Homo sapiens: one gene and its partner. The protein of the gene in region 1 interacts with the protein of each later gene in a biochemical or structural test. Each region holds a gene or a part of one and is shown on either strand. Other genes may lie near its edges.

Region 1 (10,576 bases):
CTCGCCCGCCGGCGCAGCCCCTGGGAGTTCCGTGCGGCGAGCCAGGGGAACTGGGAAGATGGGCCGGGACATCGGCCGGTTGTGATCCAACCGTGTTTCGGGCTGAGGGACCGTTCGAACCGAATTGGGGTCTGGAGGTCGGAGGCTCAGGGGCGTCTCGGGGGGAATTTGCATTCGTAGCCCCTGCAGGCGTGTCCGGAGGGGTGGAGGCCGTCCAGCCTGGGGTGTCTGCCGACCTCACGCCCGGGGGCCCCGACGGTCACGTGTCCGGCCCCGCCTGCGGCCCAGGGCCCGGGGTCTGCGATCTGGAGGGACCGCGCCAGTTTTGGGGTTACGATGTGCTAGGAGAGGCAGTGGCTGGATGCCTCGAACGCGGGCTTTCTGGCGTTCAACTCTTTTGTGCCCTAGCTGAAGGTCTTCCTGTTTCCCTTCCAGGGAGGGATAGGAGAAGAAAGGTGCTGATCGTGGTAGGCGGTGCTGTGGCGACTCGGAACGGCATGGGAGCCCTGGGCGTTTCGGGATCTTCCTCTCCTGGGGGATGTCCTGGGTGGCGGCGCCTTCCTGCCGCCGTTAACACAAACCCGGTGGACTTCGCTCCAGGTGCGAGTCGAGGCCTCTCAAGCTGGGTAGGGTGTATGCGCAGGGCAATTAGTGAGGTTAACCTGGGTATCTTTCCCCTACTGTAGTGCGCGTTACTTCGTGTTTAGATTTGTCTCCAGTGAAATCTAGGCTGCTGGACCTGGTGCAACAGTATCTGTTAGTTACTGATCAAGGAACACCGTTCACAAAAAGCTATTAATTCTGGCAACTAGTAGCCTTACAAGCTCTTGTAACTGCTAAGTCCTTCCCAAATTAGTACCTTTTTTTTTTTTAACTCTTTATTTAGAAAGCAAAGCTTGGACTCTTAGCACCACCCATCCACTTTGCTCTTAAAGGTACAGAACATCTTTGAAATGAAGAAGGCTGCCTGACTTGATCATTTATATAATTCCTCTGATCTTGGCATTGAAGTGGTTCACCTGCTGATTATTTAAGACCCTGAGCACTGGAAGCAAGTGAAGTTATGTTTTGGGAACCTTTTGACTTGTGTTGAACTTTTCTTTAACCTCTAACTAGTTTTGTAGGTTCTGCATAATTCTTGGGTGTATTCTCTTTGAAATATGGCCCTAGGTTAGAGGAGGTCCTCTGGATCCTACAGGCATGCAAATCACTAAAGCTTGAGTCCATTACTGGATTAATAGGCTCTGTCTTCATGCATGTTGTCAGATGATGGCTCAGAACTTGCAGGTAACAGATCCTAGCCAATGAGTGAGACAGGTCTAATGGATTTGTGTCTAGGTCTAGTTCCTTGTAGGAATATCTCTCCCATCTCCCAGTTGTTTCTAGGAAATGCATTCTCACTTGGCCACTGCAGGGTGACAGTGGAGGTGTCTGTTGTAAGTGGCCTGCTCAGGTGCTGAAGTCGATATGTCTCCAGTGTAAGGTTGCTGAACATCAATATTTAAAAGCAATTTATCTTGCTGCCTGGTAACCCAAATTATTCTTGAGCTTTGGACATAGGCTGGGTTGCAGCCATATTTTAGGGGAAGGCTGGTGTTAGCCTCTACAGTATTCCCTTTTCCTGTCCTAAAGACAAATGGAGATCATATTTGTGATACTGGGGACTGTGATAGGTGCTTAAGCATTGCTCTTCCCCTCTCCTCCCTGAACAATCCCTGAGACTGACTTTGTTTCTCTTGAATTACTTGAGTGACTTGAATTCTATTAAAAGCACCCCTCTCCTTAGCCTCTGACCCAGAAGCTTGTTTGGGAGGAAAAACGAATTGGTTTCCCTAAGCTTTGCTGGCTAGCCTCCTGCTCCCAGCCTGCAACATGACTTGATTGTGTGTGCATTTCAGGGCTTTGAAGAGCAGGCAGCTTGTAGCCAATGTACCCAGAGAGCTGGCCGTAGAGTTCCCCTAGGTCACTCCTTCCTAATCTTCCCTGTGAGTCTGAATGATTGGGCCTTTCTGTAGCTTGGTCTGTTTTCCTATTGTGGGGAAGTCAGTTGTTTCAGGTATGAGTTAATACCTTCAGCTTGTCATTCTCAGGCGTTTTCTTCCACTATGGGGAGGTAGTAGATCCTGTGGGCATCTTGTCCCATTGAAATCATCTCATATACTGTTTGAGAGTTGCTCATCTTTATGGTGGGGGGTGTATTTTAGTCCTAAATCTTGCTTCTTAGGGCAAGTTCTGTTTCTTCCATGTTCCTTCCTGGTGTAATACCTCAGGCAGTTTTCACTTTTATGATCATTTAACATTAAGTTCCCATCACATGTGGCATCCCACTGAAGGAACCTCCTGGCCTTGGTACCTAATTTGAAGCTTGGGCTGTGGAAAACATCATCAGTGAGCATGTTTGAAGTAGGACAGAGTCTGGCTGGAGAAACAGGTAGTGGGGGAGCTGGGAGCTAAACTTGAGAGGATGCCTCTTTCTTGATAGTTACTGTGCTAGGTGAGTTATGAGCACACTAATCCTTTAATCCTCACACCTCTGAGAACAGTGAGGGTGAAGCTGGAGGTCATTCTGGATTGTTTCAGTGGCTGTCACACAAATTCAAATTGAGGGGTAGAGGAACTAGGAAGCGTGGGTGTGGAGTTAAAACTAGGTCCTCTGGATGGCTTTTGTGAGAAGAACCAAGGAATATTCTTAAATCCCTGGGCTTTTCTCCTAATCTTTCTGCTGCTTTCTAAGTAGATTGTTAACATTGTGTGTGTTATCATTCAGCATTCTGAGAACTAGCTTTCCAGCAATAAATAGCTTTCAAGGTGTCCTTTGCCTTAACTTTTTCATTTTACTAAATGGTGCAGCCTTGTCCACATTCTGTCCGGGTCTTCACCATCTGGTTGTTTTTCCGGCTTGGTTTGATAGTTTGCAGCAGTCAGTGGTAAACATTGTGTTCCCTGTTCTGTAATGGTGGCTGGTTGTGTTCACCGAGCCAGGTGTCACTAAGGCCCAGTTGCACTTGGGAGCAAAGAAGGGCCCTGAGGTGAGTCCTGGAAGTAAAAATATGTATAACCTAGGGCTGATGAGGCTTGTTTCACTGCTGGGCTTAGCTGACAAGAGCCTGGGACTTGCTGCAGCTCTCAGAGCTGAAACCTGGCGGTGATTCTAGGCAGGCTGGTTGGCCTTCCAGATCTTGGTTTATTCAGTGGCTAAAAGAGGTTTGGTCAAAATTATCAGTATTCAGATTATGGTCCTGGGAGCCTTGGAGTTAGACCAAACGTGCCCAGGGGCCACTGGAGTGATGTGTTTGGGCTGGGGAGCACAGCTCAATGGGTAGTACATGTCAAAGACTTAAGGGGAAAAAAAACAACTCACTGTTCATCTCAAGTTCTTAGCTCTAAGGTGTGCTACTGTTCTAAATATTTTTTATTTTTAAAGATAGCTTTATTTGCCTAAATTTGTCCTGGGTGTGGGGAGTTTAGAGCTGCCTTGTCTGTAGGGTAGCTGCTAGCTGTGTGACTAATTAAACTTTTCAAAGTATTTTTAAAAAAATTTCTTAGTGACATTAGCCACATTTCAGGTTCTCAGTGGCCTCGTGTAGCTAGTGGCTGCCGTCCTGGTCAGTACAGGTCAAGAACATTTTCCATAATCGAAGAAAGTTTTGTTGGACAGCGCCGGCCTAGAAAGTTTTTTTTTCTCCAACTCTAAAAGCTTAATTGTCTCAACTTGTAAATCTCTAAAGCATAACATGTTTGAGCTTAGTCTTCCAGAGTCCATAAACCCAACAGCTTTGGTGACAAATTATCTACTGGTTGTCTCCATGGCATACTACAAGTGAGTTCTAGTCTGCCAGTTGGGAGTGGACGAACAGTTTTGAAACAGTTTGAGTGAGGACCTTCAGAAAGGACCTGGGGACAGGAGCGTGAAGCAAAGGTCCAGATGCTAAGCCCTTAGAAAGCCCTTTTGGTTTGAAGCCGTTTATTATCATAAAGATCCCTGCTGGTTTGTCCTTGGTCTCCAAATGTCAGATGTCAACATATTGTTACTTGGTCCTTCACCCACCTGATGACTTCCTACAGATCTCAGTGCGGCCCTTCTCTTAAACGAGGTTGTGTTTTCATTCTGCTGTTTCCAGTCCACCTAAATGTTAGGGGCCATTCTTCACAGAAGGTGTTGGGGGAGAGTGGGGCCACAGCGTGGATGCTAACGTGTTCTGTTGTGGCAGGGGTGGGGAGTTCTTTGTTTCCAGATGCCCCCTCTTCTAGTCCTGGGTGTGCTTTGTTTGAACCCTGCTAGATTGACCTTTGGTATATATAATGTGAGATCTCTTTTCTTGGAGCCAGGCAGCATAAAGGACACTTACTGATGAGCACCTACTGGCATATTAGTGGCTTTTTTTTTTCTGTGTCATTTTTATTCTCTGTCAGCCCTATGAGGTTAGTACAGTGATTAGTTTGTGGGTGAAGAAACAAGATCCGAGTAGAGTAAACTGGTCCCTGGACACAGCAAGGGCTGGACTGGCTTGGACCTGGGCTGGGGCGTGCTCCCCACCTCCTCCTCTGCCCCTGCCGCCCCCCATGCTCATTGGTTGTTGCTTATTTACTGCCCCTTTATCACCACATCCTCATTCAGGAAACTAAACTGGGTTTTACAAAGATTAAAATCATTGATCCCACATATGGAGTCTGACTTAAGTGTGTTCAGCCTCGTTACAACTCTGTGAGGGAGATATTCCCTATTACAGAACATCTTCATTTTATGGGAAACTGAAGTACAGGATCCTACTCTTAACTCTCTTGTCTTTCCAAAGCCATATTTTATCATCAGAATTATGCAACCATCGGGTGCTTTTGAAATGCACAAGTAATGACTATGAATAAAAAAAGCTGTGCCTGAGGGCTCAGGGAAACTGCTCTGAAGACTGAGCTGATTGAAAAAGACAATCCTGAAGTCACTAATTTCCCGACACCTGTCAGACCTCACTTGGAGGTCACAGACCATCTCCTGGCCCTCCAAAGGCTGTCACCCAGCAGTAGCTGGCCTCCTGATTAGAGGAGGCAGTAAGATCTTTTCAAGCACAGCCCCAGCCCCCATCCCTTCTCTGGCCTGGGCCTGGATGTGCCTTTGTGAGGTTGGGTCGATGACAGATCTGAAGGACAGTTCAGTCTTCTGTACACTCCTTCTTGCCCCTCCTTTCTGCCACTCCCAAGAAAAAGGAGCAGGAGTGATTCTCACTTTCCTGAACTGCCTTGGAGGGAGACCCACACTCAGCTGTGCCTTTAGCTGTCTCTGGGAGAAAAGGCCGTGCTGCAAATAACCTCCCTGCTTTGTCCTTTGGCTTTGGTGTGGCTCACCTGGCCAAGCATGTGCTGGTGCTATTTTTAGCAGGTGGCATCCTTTAGGAGGGCCAAGTGCATGTGGCTGCAGTGTACGGGACAGGTCCTGGTGCCAAAGCTGCTGCTGTCTCTGCTGCCACCGCCTCGTCAGGAGAGAGAGGAGAATAAAGCCACCCTGGAAGCTGCCAAGGGGTGTGTGGAGGGGGTGGCTGCTTAAGAGGTCTCCAGGGCTGCCTTTTCTATTCTGGATCTGTGGCAGGGGCCCAGCCTGCCTCCTGGTGCAGGCAGGCATGTGACTGAGGCAGCCCGGGGAGCTGGGGAGCTGGGGAGCTAGGTGTCAGACTGCTGCCTGGGGAGTGAGGACCCCTTGTTGCCCCAGCAGGCAATTTTTCAGGAAACCACATAACCCCATTAAAAACATTATTTATTTATTTATTTATTTATTTAGAGATGAGGTCTTGCTTTGTCACCCAGGCTAGAGTACAGTGGCTCGATCATAGCTCACTGCTGCCTTGAATTCCTGGGTTCAAGGGATCCTCCTGCCTCAGCCTCCCAAGTACCCGGGACTATAGGTGCACATCATGATGCCTGGCTAGTTAAAAAAATTTTTTTTGTAGTGATGGGGTCTCATCACCTTGCCCAGACCCATTTCAAGACTCCTAGGCTCAAGTGATCATTCCATGTTGGTCTCCCAAAGTGCTGAGATTACAGGTGTGAGCCACCGTGCCTGGCCCCATAACTTCATTTTTGTGTGAAGTTGCCCAGCCTAAAGGCTGGCCACTAAATGGACACTTAAAAACTCTCTAATAGTGTGGATTGGTGGGCAGTCTGATTCCTCTGGCTTAAACCAAAATGCAAACATGAAAGGAGGCATGGCCATAGACCCCCGGTGAGAATTCTTTACTGTGATGACACAGAAGCTGAAGAGGGATGAAAAAGCAGTTTGACCAGCAAGCTTGCTGGTTCCCTAGGCCACCCTTTCTTCTCTCCTTTTCAGTTCCTCCTTCCCTCTAACTTGGAGCTGCTAACTCCAGCCCATCTAACTGTTTCTGATTAAGAAAGCTTCAAGCCTTATAAGGCCCTCTGTTGCCTATGGTTTATGTTGGCTGGAGAGCAAGGTTGTTTTTTGCAAAGTCTGATTCAAAGAAGTGGCAAGGGCTTACGTAGGCTGTGTGTGTCCGCCTCCTGGGGCTGGACTGCCTTATTGGAACAGGTTCCTTTGAGGGAGCCTGAGAGTAAGGGGGGCTTATTATCCCTTACCCTTAGTGGTGGCTCTGTAAGGCTAATGTGTGGTGTGGCCACAGGGCTTCCTGGCAAGTGTATTCGCTGAGAACTTAAAGGTAAAAGCAAGCCCCTGTTTACCTACACAGTGTACCTGTCATGCTACCAGCCACAGAGGCATCCTGTTTCAGGAATCAAGTCTGGAAGCAGCTTCTGCTTATTAATTAAGAACTAAAGCCCCTTGGCTCTTCAGGCACATCGCTTTCCCCTCTGGAGAAAGTTTGGTGGACCGTGTCCCTTGGGGTTCTTGCGAGTCCGACTGGCCTTCCGCGCAGTGATGTTGGAGAGCCCTTTTTCTGAGAGCCATGCTCTGCCTCATCTTCACCTCCCCTCTTGCTACCTCTTGAGTCAGCCAAGCCTGTTCCTGCCTTAGGACTTTGGCACATGTTCTTCCTGCCTGGAACTTTCTCCCCGCTCTCCTCCTGCTTCCCCCCAGATCTTGGCACAGTTCTCAAGTGTTCCAGTTCTGATGCCACCTCTTCCAAGAGGCATTCCCGCCTCATTCTGTCTGCAGCTTCCCCTTCCAAGTGCTCCATCCAGCCTTTCTCATTTCAACCACAGCACACAGAAAAGGACTAGGTGACCGTTCCTCAACTCTCCCAGCTGGTGCCCTGCTACACGCACAGGGATATAGGTAATTCATCACATGCAAGGGCAGCCTTAGGGCTCAGTTCTCTCAATCAGTTGAGAGAGGCTGCAGGTCTTTATATTTAAGTCGCGGAATCTTTGCAGTATCTTACCTGTAATTTGACTCTCTACCCTTCCTTCCACCTTTGCTTCCTGAGGGATCTCTTTGCCTTATGTGCCCAGCGAACTTGGCTCACAGTGCGTGTTAAACTCTTTGTTAAATGACTGGCCCTGAGAGGTCCAGCCATCTGATGCTGGCTAGCCCTCAATGCCTTGCTTCCAGAGGGATCTAACCTGTCAATAAGCATGCTCTCTTTTTGATATTACTATTATGTCAGCTGGGCAGCTGGGGGTCTCTGAAGCAAAATTGGCATCAATTATTATAGGAAAATAAGGCCTTACAAGTTTGTACACAGATGAGTTGACATTAATGCAAATTTAGGATGGTTAATAAGAAACATAAAGCTGTGTGGTAATAGAGCATGCATTGCTACTTGTATGTATCTTAATAACGTGTTTTCTATCAAAACATTACTTGTAGAAAGGATTTGGCTTTTGACTGTGTACAAGGCTTGAAAGGACAGTCCTTTGCCCACTGCCCCCCACCCCCATTACTTTCAATTCTTCCAGCTGTCCCCACCATTGTCAGTAGTATTATTTTCTTTCTTTTTAAGGATTATTATCTGATTTGTTTTTCTGCTGTGGGAGATAGGATTTAGCTCGTTCCTATGCTTTTTTCTTCCCTCATCATCCCAGTGTAGAGATAGCCCAAGTTTTGGTCAAGTTGATCTTCAGAATATACATTATTATAATATGAACCTTGTTTATGGCTGCAAGGTTTTTAGTTTCCCATATTTCTTCTTTTCCTTCATTTTCTTCTTCTCCTCTCCTAGTTAATTTCCTTAGTTTCTTTTGCTTAATTTTCTGTCTCTCTCACCAGTTCCCTGACCACCTCGCAGCCTCCACCATTGCTGTGGAATGCCTGTCATTGGGGGAAAGTGGCTCTCACTGTGGCTCCACATACCAGGTACTCGCAACGGTTCCACGTTTCTCCTGGGCGCATCCCTTTTCCCTGGCTCTGCTTCCCCTTCAGCCTTGGAATTCCCTCTCCCCTTCTCTTGTCTCGTTTCTGGATCCAGTGCCCCTCCTTTCTTGGTTGATTTCCTTGTCTTGGGGGAGCCCATCGTTCAGTAGCTTGCTGAGAAGGTGTGCGTGGTTTGTGGCCCACAAGAAGCCAGCCGATCCATGCAGGGACAGGCACCTTTGAAGGCATGGATTGGGCCTTCAGTTGGGTGGCTGAAGTCAGCAGACAACTAGGCCTGTGGAGCCCTTCCGCCAGGCCAGGCCAGCAGAAGGTCTGGCTTCACTTTTTAGAGAAGTTATAAATGTGGCGATCTGGATTTGGGTACCAGGGAGTGGTGAAAATGGGTCCCCCCCAACTTTTTTTTTTTTTTTTTTTTTTTAAAGACAGGTCTCACTGTCCCCCAGGCTGGAGTGCAGTAATGCCATCATAGCTCACTGCAGCCTTGATTTCCTGGGCTCAAGTGATCCTCCCACCTCAGCCTGCTCAGTAGCTGGGACAAGAGGCATGTACTACTATGCCCGACTAATTCTTTTAAATTTTTTTTTGTAGAGATGAGGTCTCACCACATTGCCCAGGCTAGTCTCGAACTCCTGGGCTCAAGTAATCTTCCAACTTCCCAAAGTGTTGGGATTACAGGTGTGAGCCATCGTGCCTGGCTGAAGATGGGTCTTGAATGAAAGTCTATATATTGAATGGGGCATCCCAACTCTCCTTGGCTCCCATAATGCTGGCATTCAGGCTTATATTCTCTCATTCCTACCCCAAGATACTAGAACATTCTAGTCTGAGGACACTGGCACCCCATTTTCTGTTCCTCCTTCACCCCTAACAGGGCACTTCCATGTCCTATGGACAAAACTTTCAGTTGGTCAGTAGCAGAGAGTGGCAGTAACAGGCCCACTGGAGAAAAGGTCATTGCTTGTTTTTTGAGACAAGGTGTCACTCTGTTGCCCAGGTTGGAGTGCAGTGGTGCGATCTCGGCTCACTGCAACCTCTGCCTCCTGGGTTCAAGCAATTCTCCCACCTCAGCCTCTCGAGTAGTTGGGACTACAGGTGTGCGCCACTATGCCTGGGTAATTAAAAAAAAATTTTTTTTTTGTAGATACAAGGTCTCACTATATTGCCCAGGCTGGTCTTGAGCTCCTGGCCTCAAGCAATCCTCCCGAAGTGTTGGGGATTGTAGGCGTGAGCTACCGTGGTGGCCTGTTTGGGCTTTTTTTTTTTTTTTTTTTTTCTTCTGCCCTCCACTACTCCCCGCCAAGACTGAAAGTGCCTCGAGGGCAGTGCCTTGCCTGATTAATTTGTGTCCCACCATGCTTTTCTCTGTGAGTGCCAGTAATTATTTGTTGAATAGAAATTACCTTCTATGCTTTTATGTGATTTCTGGGGTGGTCGTAGTTCACTGTCTGCCATTAGGAAGATCAGGGTCTTACCTCTTTGGTTTTGCCCATGTGAGGTGCTGCGAAGGGTTTCTTGCTGCACACCAACATCTTTTCTGATGTCTTTACTGGCTTTTAAGTCAGGTTGTTGTCAGATTGCCATTTCATACTTTTTGGGCAGTTTTGTGTAATGTCTTCTGTGGTCGTGGGCGGGAACTCCATGTACCCAGGAAGGCATTCCTGGCACCTGTGTTGTGACCATCTTTAGAAACCTGGCGGAATTCACTTGTAAAGCAAGATGGTTGTCAAGGCCAGAGGTGAGGGGCAAGGTGAGTGTGACATAGTCTTCAAAGTTTTAAAATCCACACCCCTACCCCCAAAATGAAGTGATTAGGAAGACCTTTGTAGGAGGTGCTGATGATTTTTCCTTCACGAAAAGAGGCATGTGACTTGGACCTGCCATGGATTTGGCCAGCAGAGCAGGAAAGAGACTGGGCAGTTCAACCTCGGGTACTAAGTTTTCCAGAGCAGGAGTTGGTTTAACTTTTAGTTGGGCTGGCGGAGCTCTTACTTTGAGGCCATGTCCAGAGATGGTATTTCTGGCTTTTGGCTTGTCTTGTCTTACCTAGAGCACCTGGTAGTGGATTCAGGGTTTTCATTTTGGCCGTAGAAGGCTTTGCCAAGCAGGTACTCAGACACTACTGGGTTAAGCTTCTGGCCTTCCTTCTGTGAATTGGGCTGGGAAAGTGTCCCGAGTTCCTGACAGCTGCTCTACGTGGAAGGGCAGAAGCACCCACAAAGTGTGCTGGTCTGGTGGTGCTGGCCCCCCTGGCTTCTCTGTGGGCCATCACAATGGAGGGTGGGGGACAGTCCTAGACAGGAC
Region 2 (10,576 bases), on another chromosome or scaffold:
TATATTATCATCTTAATTTTGGGTAAAGAGTGTATATATAATACATATGGTTCTCATTTGAACAGAGAGAAAAAGGTCCTAGTGTGCTCCCTGTTCATATGGCTTTTTTGATTTGGCAAAAATATAAAGGGAAGAGGCTAAGGACTCATTCAACTTGCCCATAGATAAGTTCCACTGGATTCCGTTAGCTCAAGTCTTCCTCCAAATCCTCAACTCAGACTCCCAACATGGGAGAGGGGATCACAAACTAGTAAATTTTCTTTTTTTTTTTAGACAGGGTCTCATTCTGTGTTCAGGCTGGAATGCAGTGGCACAATCTCGGCTCACTGCAGCCTCCACCTCCTGCACTCAAGTGATCCTCCCACTTCAGTCTCCTGAGTAGTTGGGACTACAGGTGCATACCACCACACCTAGCTAATTTTAAAATATTTTTTGTAGTAACTGGGTCTCCCTGTGTTACCCAGGCTGGTCTCAACTCCTGGATTCAAGTGATCTTCCCGCCCCAGACTCCCAAAGTGCTGGGATTACAGACTTCAGCCACTGCACCTGGCCACAAACTAGTAAATATTAAACCCAGTTTTCCTCCTCTCTTTCAATCCTAGGGTGGAATTCAACCAAGGGTGTAATGGCTTTGAAGCAGGCTGGCCTCACTTTGAACTCAGGAGAAGTGGAACAGAGTTGCATATTTTCTTAAGGTCCTAGAAAACATAAGGTCCTTTTATAACATAATGTGACACAGAAATATATTACTTGATCTGAAAATTAATTTTTTGTATAAGCACTATCATACACTATTGATGCAAGTCAACAATCATTTTGTGGGGCAATTTGGTAATATCAAATTGGTAGAACAATCTTTTTGTAAGGAAATTTGGTACTATCTATCAAAATGTAAAATACATATACCTTATATCCCAGCAATTGCACTGTTAAGAATGTACTCTCAGAAGCATGGTCAGGATATGTGTAAAATATATTGATTGAAGCACTGTTAGTAACAGGAAAACAAACTGGAAACAAACTAAATGCTTATCCTTAGGGGGTACTGGTTTAAAAATTACACTACAACCATGCAATGGAAAAATCAGGTATTTCTTTGTCCTCTCCAAATGTGTTAGAACTCCACCATTTCTTTATCCCTGATTGAGCAAATTGAAATGTTAAGCATTTTTCTGCTTAAGCCCATCTGGAATTCCCCGGTATAATTTTCAATACTTCTGAGCTGCTATTTCACTTAAATACTGGTCTTCTCCTGGTTGCACCCCTCTGTCTAGGATCAAGCCTGCCATCAGCAGCCTCAGAGCTATGGAAGAATCTTATTTTTCTGTTTAAGATAGTATTTTCTCTTTCTCTATTGACTAAAAGCATCAATCTTTAAAAACATGCCACCGGTGACAAATGATAAATTAGGATATTTATACTTGGATGGAGTTCCAGCAGAAATAAGCTATTTGGGGTACAGGCAGAGCAGCAGGGTAGACTTAGACCTTTCTAGCACCCTTCCTTTTTAACATTCACGGTTCACGTGTCCTGCCTCTGAAAGGCTGCTACAATGTGAAAATCTTTTATATGCTCAATATCTGTTTTATGCTTTTTAAAAAAATAAATAAAAAAATACAGCTCTTCTGAAAACTTGGGAACATCCTTTTAAACAAGGTTTGGATTTTGATACTGTCACTCTTATTAGAACTACAACCCATCTGTACTAGAGTTGATTATATTCTAGAATCAGGCAGCATGAAGAGAACCTGACAAGCTCTGAAATAAGAAAACTCAGTGATCCTCCTTTAGAAATTTCCTCATCCCTCTGTTTAATTTTAAATCTCTGGGATATTGAAAATAATTTACATCTTTAAAAAATCCTAAAGTAAAGCATTTACATTGGCTTACCTTTTTCTTTGACAAAGTATTTTTGCACCTCTGGGATCAGAAAACTATAAACCAACTCAGCAACAATCTCCTCTGACTGAAGATAGGTTCGGCTAAAAAATATAAAACAAATTGAATTATTTCTTTGGTTTTTTCACTTGAGCTGCTGATTTATGCTTTCCTGCTGTGTAAGCAACTCCATTCAAACCCCACCATCACCTTTTCCTTGATTAAGTGATCTGAAATATCACATTCCTGGCAAGTTTGTTTAACTCCACAAAAAAATTTGGATTTGACCCTGTCCTTCAGTTACCCTGCCTGCCAGGAAGGGAATGTTGGAAACACAGCTTATACATAGAAGCCAGCAACCTTGGGATGAAGTCCCAGTAATGTTGCACACACGTATTCACATTGTTTTCATGCTTCCGAGTATTCTTAAAGTAAGTAATGAGAGTAATCCAGATTGCAGAGGATAACTGAGAATACATACGGAGGCATACACATATTGGCTTCTCAAGAGTTAATGTTAATAAAACAATGGACGCTGAAGTATGAGTTATTTGTTTCTACTTGGTGGTGAAATTGTAAGCTCTTGAAAAAATATATATGAGTACCAGCAAATGGGCTGTCCATTCTACAATCTGTTCTCTTGATACACACCGGCTTTCCATTTCATAAGCAATGTCATTGATTTTCTCAGCCATCTTCTCTATTTCTGCCCTGGCTTGTTCTTCTGCAGTATTCGCTTCGGTATTCAGTATTATGTCTTCTAGGTAGGAGCTTATAGTACTATGGTGAACTTTAACCACCTGCAAAAAACAATAATACCCTCACTAAAACAGGTATGCTGTTGTAAACAACACAAGAAAAATACACAAACATTGGTTAACTTTTTCTAGCTCATATATTTCATTTAATAAGTCAACAGTCCCTTCACTAATCATTCATTTTCTTTAGCATCTCATCAGTCTGTTTCTCATCCACCTACCTACTCACTCTGGGCAGCCCACACCCATTTAGCCCATTTCAGAATTATGGATCTTATTGGGCAGGCAGGCAAGACAGCACTGCTGAAGGATTATGGGCTTCAGAGTCAATAACGCTGGTTCAAATCCTGGCTTTGTTCTTACCAGCAACGTGACTTGGTCAAACTATCTAACTGTAGCACAGACTAGGAGGTATTCTGCAGTGTCCTTTCTCTCCTTCCTCTTACATAATAGAACCCCTGGATTTTAGCTAGGGAAACAGGTGCCTAGAATAAAGACTACATTTCCCAGCACCCACAGGAGCTGGATTGCCCATATGACCACGTTCTGACCAAAGAAAGGATTCTTAAAGGGAAAGACCTGGCTTCCTTTTTTCTCTCTTCATTTCTCCTTTCATGAGGACATAATGCTGGAATACCAGCAATCATCTTAAATTGCCAGAAGGCCTACGACCTAGGAGCAGAAGAGCAGAAAGCTAGAAGGATCCTGGGTCTCTAATGAATTTATTGAACTATCATACCAGCCCTTGACTGCTTCTTTTTAAAGTTTACTTGAAATCATGAAATAGGATACAGATTTTAAAAGTGCATTGCAAGCAAACTCAGAGATTAGAAAAATAAAACAAAATAAAAAGTACAGAGCACATAAATGTACAGTGTAATGAATTAGGGTAAAGTCAGAAGCCATGTATTATAGTAACTGCCAGTATCTCAGAAGGCCACCATGGTTTCTTCCTTTACCACAGCACCTTCCCACTTTCATAGTAAACACTTTCTTTTCTCTATAATTTTGCTACCTAGGTATGTAACCATAAACAAAGTAGTTTAGTTTTGCCCGCTTTACAGGTGTATGTATATAGAAAGATTAAGCATCAACTGTGGCATACTTAGTTTTGCCTGTATATGTATGCTGTCTCCTCAACAGATTATCAGCTTTTTAGAGGTAGGGCATTTTTCTGTTTCATGTCTAAATATAGCTTTGTATCTGAGATAATGCCTGGGACTCAGTAACAATTCAGTACCTGTTTGTGGATTGGCACTTTGGCACAATTCTGAGTATATGATACTGTACACCTATGTGTAAAACATCAACCTTCAATCCCTATGCCTTCTCTATGGGAGAGTCTCAATGGCCAGTTTAATACAGTATCAACCAAACAACTAACCAACCAAAATATATCTGCTGAATGCCTATTAGTTACAGGGATCTACACTGTGTTGTGCAAGGCACAAAGGGAATATACAATATTCATGCTCTCATAGAGCCCACCCTCTTATTCAGGAAGCAAGTTGGATCTATATGGATCAATTAGCTCAGTCACGTAATAGTAGAGAGGTGGAAAGTTTACTATGGTCCATCCATAGCTGTATATGTACCTGTGTGTTTATGTATATCTTTATAAATGTGTAAATTTCTGGAGACGTTTGTGCGTGTATGTATGTGAATAAGGAAAAGTGTGGCTATGTGTGTTCCTCTATGTCTTGCTAATGTTGTGCACACCAGATTATATTTGTAAATATGTCCTCATGTATGTGCCTGCAAAATTTATATGTATTTAAAGATGAGTCGATGACTTTATATCTGTGTTTCTCACTATCTAGATGCATATTTTGGAAATTTATTAAATATTACATTTCTGGTTTATAATTTATGTGCAAGCATATTTCTCTTCAAGAGAATCTGAATGGAGGCTGGGGAAGTAGGATGGAAAATAGTCACTATATTTTAATTAGGAAGGTTGAGAATTAACATATGGATGATATTTGAATCTGTGGGTCCATAGCTGAGTACATTTTTTACCTAAGTGGTTCTTAAATCAGGCTAGAAAGGCTATATTAACCCTTTCTTGCCCTTGCTAGACAGAGCTGATGTTTTCTGACATCATTCCCATTTAGAAGGTATCTTCCTAAGAAGCTTTTTTACCAGCTTTTTCCTTTCTCTGCTTTTGTGTATAGTAGCTCCTCTGTTCCATTTCTTCTTATTCTCATCCCCAGCTGGTTCTTCCTTAGTGATATTAGGTAAAGGATGGCAAGTTCTGATTTGCCAATAATTTCTAAATCTCAGTCACTGTTTTTGAAGAAAAGTGTGTTGAGATTAGTAGGAGGCTAGAAGCTGGTCACCAACTTCCAAATTTACATCTTCGGCCAAACCCTCATTTCTAAATTCCATCTTGTAGATCCATCTACTGAAACAATACCTCTGCTTAGATGTCCCAAACGAAATATAAACTGATTTCCTGATTCCTCCCCTGCCCCTAAGCTTATTCCTCTCTCAACTTTCCTACCTCACGAAATAATACCATCATCTTCCAGCTGCTTAAGCCCGAAACTGGATGTAATACTCGACTTCCTGTCTCTCACTCTGGCCTTCACTACTTCAACAGCTCCTTCCTGGCCGCCTTGTTCCCCCTCTGTCCTCCCTCCAGCCTGTGCTCCACACAGCAAGTGAAGTAACTGGCTTAAAATGTGTCTCTGGGCCCTATTTGTTTCCTTCATGGAACTCATTACAGTTTCTAATTCTATACACGTGCGTATTATGTGTTATTTAAGCTTTAGGAGAGACGGGATCGTGTCTGGGTTTTTTCCTCCAAAGTTTCCCACAGTGCCTCTGTAGAGTGCCTGGCATACAGTAGGAACTCAATGCATAAACAAAAGCCAAATGCCATTTTATGTCATGAGCTTCCTTTGGTTTGACTTGGCTCCTTCTAGGCAGCTTCCACACACCCAGCTGCCCCTACTTGCCTCCTTAAATATCTCGTCCTCCTCCCGCAGGCGCTGTTTTTCCACCTGGCGCCGACCACTCTCTTCAGCCTCTCGTACCCGCCGCTGGCGCTCAGCCAGCATGACAAAGGCATGGATCCTCCTCTCCTCCTGCAGTCTCACCAGCTCTTTGGACAGGAAGTCAAACATGTCTGCTAGTGCCCTTCCTTCCAGTCCGGCCAAATGGTTTTCAACCAGTGACACCTTGAAAAGAATAACATAACTTTAAGGACACAAATTCCATTATGAGTGGTGATTATTAGAAGAAGTGCTGGATTACTCAAAACTCTTGGCAGTCAATTCACTTTCAGAATGCATTTAATTTTTACTGGGAATATTACCTCTCAATTGGCTCCAACCCAAGTTCTTATGAGGAAAACTGAGGCACGAGAAAGTCGATTGTCTGGTCAGTCACTGATGGACCACAGCCCTCAAATAAGCAAGAGGATTTAGCAAGACGTTTCTGTTAGTGACCATGGAGAATGGGTTTTTTTTCTTTCAATTTTATCAACAAGGTAAAGTGTGTCTTCTCAGATATGAAGGGAAATGTCAAGTTTTTTATTAAAGATAATATTGGAGTTTAATCAAATTGAATCTCCTAGAAATTCACTCATGATATCAGTTAATTTTTCAATATCTTTCCTTTCACACAAGTTAGGAGTTAAGATCTTGAATAACGTGAAAGTAGAAAACCTTGGTACTTTTTACTTTTTTAATAACTTTGAAGTCATTAACAACAATATTCGAAATAGCACAGGAATGGCTGGGCATGGTGGCTCAGGCCTGTAATCCCAGCACTTTGGGAGGCTGAGGCGGGTGGATCACCTGAGGTCAGGAGTTCGAGACCAGCCTGGCCAATATGGAGAAACCCCGTCTTTACTAAAAATACAAAAATTAGCCAGTCGTGGTGGTGCGTGCCTGTAATCCCAGCTACTCGGGAGCCTGAGGCAGGAGAATTGCCTGCGCCCAGGAGGCAGAGGGCGCCACTGCACTCCAGCCTGGGTGACAGAGTGAGACTCCATCTCAGAAAAAAAAAAAAAAAAAGCACAGGAAACAGACCAAATGTCCATCTAATCACTGAGGCAAAATTAGGGACCCATTGTGCTCTCTGCCAGAAGTCAGCTACAGTGCCTATTTATGAATCCCTGTGTCCTGGCTTTGACATATGGAGAAGAAAAGTGTTTAAGATGACTTTGCAACTTCATCCCCTTTCCTCTCCTATCCTTGCTTGTAAGGGAAAAGGGTTCATCTTCCAGTCACATGCCACCTTCTCAGTGACAGTTCTCCCTCTATGCTCAGCTTCCTTCCTGGTTTCTGTATGAAAGGAGGGAATACTCAGTTCTCAGAGGCCATGGGGCTATGGGTAAAAGCATCAGTCAAGTGTGGTTGTTGGCCCCAACACCACCCATCTTCATCCTCACCTGCCTCCTAGCCCACACACACTTTCTAACCACAAAGTTCAACTTTACTTATATAATAGGGAGAGATGGAAAAAAAGGGCAAAGCTAAGAGCATCTCACTACTCCTTCCATTCATAAACAGTAGATACTCAGCCCAGAGATCACAAATAGATTCTCTCCTTGTCTCCAGGGAGCATAAGCTCCCTCACTCAGGGTCAGGTGCAACCTTGAAAATCCTGAGGTGGCTAGAAATCCTGTTCATGTTTAGCCTCTTCTCTCAGCAAGAAATCTGGGTAGGCACAGGCAGTACCATCTAATTTGAAATTAAGGGAAATGTTTAGGGAGGGGACTCCACTGTAGTCACAGAAAGTACTGTGTTACGTAATTGGGGGTTGTGCATTTTCTGGACTGTTTTCCACAGAAATATAAGAGAAGGGGGAAGGGGGCAGACCAGCATTGCTGCATCTATACATGAGGTGCTCACTCCCTCAGATCCCTGCATATATCCAGGGTGTATCCAAGTACAGCTGAAGGTAAGCAGAGTGAGTCCTTGGCTAAGTGACAGCTTTGCCCATTAACTCCTCCCTTAGCTGTAGGCGGACACGATTTCACTCACATGTATATCCACTAAATGGAATAAATGAGCTGAAAAGCCTGGGTTAGCTTAGCTATACCCACTAAAGTCATGATCAGAAACTGAAAGGGCCAAGGAGGGCATTTTTTCATCCACAGTCTCAGGGCCTAGCGCTTCCAGGGCATTCTGCTCCTTATCTGAGCTTTTCCAGGACTCTAGGACTTCTAGATTCAGGGACTCCAGTGTTGACATTCTCCTCTTCCTTCTCTGGTTCCTCTGTTGGATCTCACAGCCTGTGGCTTGCTTCCTCCCCATTCTGCCTCACCCCCCAAAAGTTCCCCAAGCTCAGCAAACATCCATGGTGCTGCTGTCATGTGAAAGAAACAAAGTTGTGGTCATTTCCAGGCTGCTTACCATTTGTGCCCGACTCCCACATAACACAAGAGTTATGTATGTTGCTAAAGGGGGGGTCATATTAACTTTAAGTATTACTTCCCTATAACACTAAATTCTGTGCAAATTGATTCTTTTTCAGATTGACTTACAGAAAAGTGGGAGAGGGAGTAAAATAAAGCATAGCTATACTATGTCAATAACATTTAAAAGTGTGTATACATATATAGACAAACATTGGAAGAAAATAGGAAAAATATTTACAGTTGTTGGTTTGGAGCTGTAATTCTTAGCTGTGTCAGGCGGCACACAGCTGGGAGGTCATGACGAAAGTCACCACATATCATGAAACAGTAACACATTTAATATGCAGTTTAACCAGCATGAGCTATGACAGCTCTAAAACTCCAAAATAAATGCTAATATTTTAAGATAAATCTTATTTCTCACTTTTTTCATGTTGCTTTTGTTATTTATTCAGTCTACAAAGCCCTCACTAACTGAAATACAATAGTCACTGGATATTTGGGGAAAAAAATGGAAGGAAAAAAATCTTAAAGTTGAAAAGAATGCATTCTTCTTGTTTTGTTGTTATTGTTTTGCAAATAAAGAAAAAATAGCACCATATTCAAATCAGTAAGGGCACATCCCCAATCAAATTAAGGACTACAGCAGCATTATTTAAGAATTCCAGAACTTTGGGAAGCTGAGGCAGGCGGATCACCTGAGGTCAGGAGTTCGAGACCAGCCTGGCCAATATGGCGAAACCCCATCTCTACTAAGAATACGGAAATTAGCCAAGCATGGTGGTGCATGCCTGTAGTCCCAGCTTGGGAGACTGAAGCAGGAGAATCATTTGAACCCGTGAGGCAGAGGTTGCAGTGAGCCACGACTGCATCACTGCACTTCAGCCTGGGCGATAGAGTGAAACTCCATCACACACACACACACACACACACACACACACACACACACAAATGCTGACAGAGTGATGGGATTGTGGGGCTGTTTCTTTTTCATCATTTCATTAATTTTTATTATAATGGTGCTGTGTGATGATAAAATCAAGGGAGAAAATTTAACAAGAAAGTAACAAGAAAACAAAAAAAGGAAAACCTTGTGCTCATGCAAGTTCCTCTGCCGCTGTAAGGCCAGGGTCACTTGCTTCTCGGCTTTTTTCACCAGCTTTTCATCTTCTTGTAGTGCGTGGCAGGTGCGCAACTCCTGGATCAACTCCAGTCGCTTTTCTTTCCCTTCAAACATCTGTATCAAATCAAATCAAAGACAGACCTGCAAGTTACCATCCCTTTGTGCCAAGCACTAGGAGTCACACGCAGTGACTTGTGAGACACTTGTGAACAGTGGGTTCTGTCCTGCCTTTTGGGTTCCACAGAGCAGATGTGTCCCACAGAGCTAGAGCTCAGCCCTCTTTTCTGTGCCTTCAGCTTCTCAGGCAGAAAATGGGCTTAGTTTTCAGTGAGCTGTGCTTAATTTCTGAGAATGCCTCTCAAGGACAAGATGACAACTCCAGGGTCATCTGAAGAAACCAGAACCTTCCCCTCATTTCCTGTGCTCCTTCCCTAATAAACCTGAGGATGGCATTTTTCATGGCCATATGTTTTTTTCCAATAAATCTGTCCCTGGTTTGTAATAATCTGTTGTCTGAATTTAACTGTGGCATTTCTCTTGGGAAAATACTGAAAGAAGAGTAAAGAACAGTGCTAAACACAAGTTGTTCATCCAGATGATTTACTCATCATATCTGAATCTCTTATGAGTTATAGCTATCTGGGAAAAAAAATTAACTGGGGCTTTATATCAGTCCATTTTTTAAGTGAAGTGTGCCTGCTCCAGCAACACAAATAATCTGGCTAAGGCTTTACACTCGGGAAGACCAGAGCTGAATTTGCTGGCAGATAACTAAATCTCCCTCAGACTCAGATTACTTGCCTGTAAAATGAGATTATGGATAGGAAAAAAAAATGAGACAACATATGTAGAGCAAAGAATAAATAGTGTGGGCATATAGTAAAGGTTCAAAACCATAATTTATTATTTAGCTCTTTCATTTATAATGTAGGGATTGCCAGACATATGCAAACTCAAATAATTGTATTATGACTGTGGAAAATTAGGGAATCCACCTGGTTGATAATGCTTAAATAGCCAAAATTCAGGTGAGAAAATGTATGGATTTAACAATTCCAAGGAAGAAGTGAGTTTCATACTGCCTTAGTTACAACCATGGCAAATAGCAGGTAGGTCCTCCCTGTCTCTCTCCTTGACACTGTGCCACCCACCTGGACAAATGATGCCATTAGAAGGAAATGGGTCACCAGAAGGAAATGGGTAGGCAACTCAAGAGTTTAGCTGAATAGGATAGCAGGGTGCAAAAGGGATTCACTCCAAGGAACCAAGCACATATGCATTCTAAAAAATTTATTCTCAAAAGAGAAATGCAGGGCCAGCGGTTGGACCTACACACCATGTTCTGAACGACTCTGCCCCGGAGTAACTTTTGAAGGTAGATCACAGCCATTTCCATTTCTTCTTCTTCCTAAAAGAACAAAGGGAGAACCAAGCAGCTTGAGAACT

The links.
Region 2: the proteins of AKAP1 (region 1) and CFAP91 form a complex in vitro, tested with the Homo sapiens proteins (one study listed by BioGRID and IntAct).

Annotation. Positions count from the first base shown.
Region 1 is NC_000017.11:57,085,938-57,096,513, forward strand, and holds part of AKAP1 (A-kinase anchor protein 1, mitochondrial precursor), read left to right. Parts: exon of another isoform or gene 1-137; intron 138-435; exon of another isoform or gene 436-600; intron 601-9,551; exon of another isoform or gene 9,552-10,022; intron 10,023-10,576.
Region 2 is NC_000003.12:119,739,217-119,749,792, reverse strand, and holds part of CFAP91 (cilia- and flagella-associated protein 91), read right to left. Parts: intron 10,539-10,576; coding exon 10,467-10,538; intron 9,245-10,466; coding exon 9,098-9,244; intron 5,819-9,097; coding exon 5,597-5,818; intron 2,679-5,596; coding exon 2,530-2,678; intron 1,983-2,529; coding exon 1,891-1,982; intron 1-1,890. UniProt on the Homo sapiens protein: Involved in sperm flagellum axonemal organization and function. May regulate cilium motility through its role in the assembly of the axonemal radial spokes.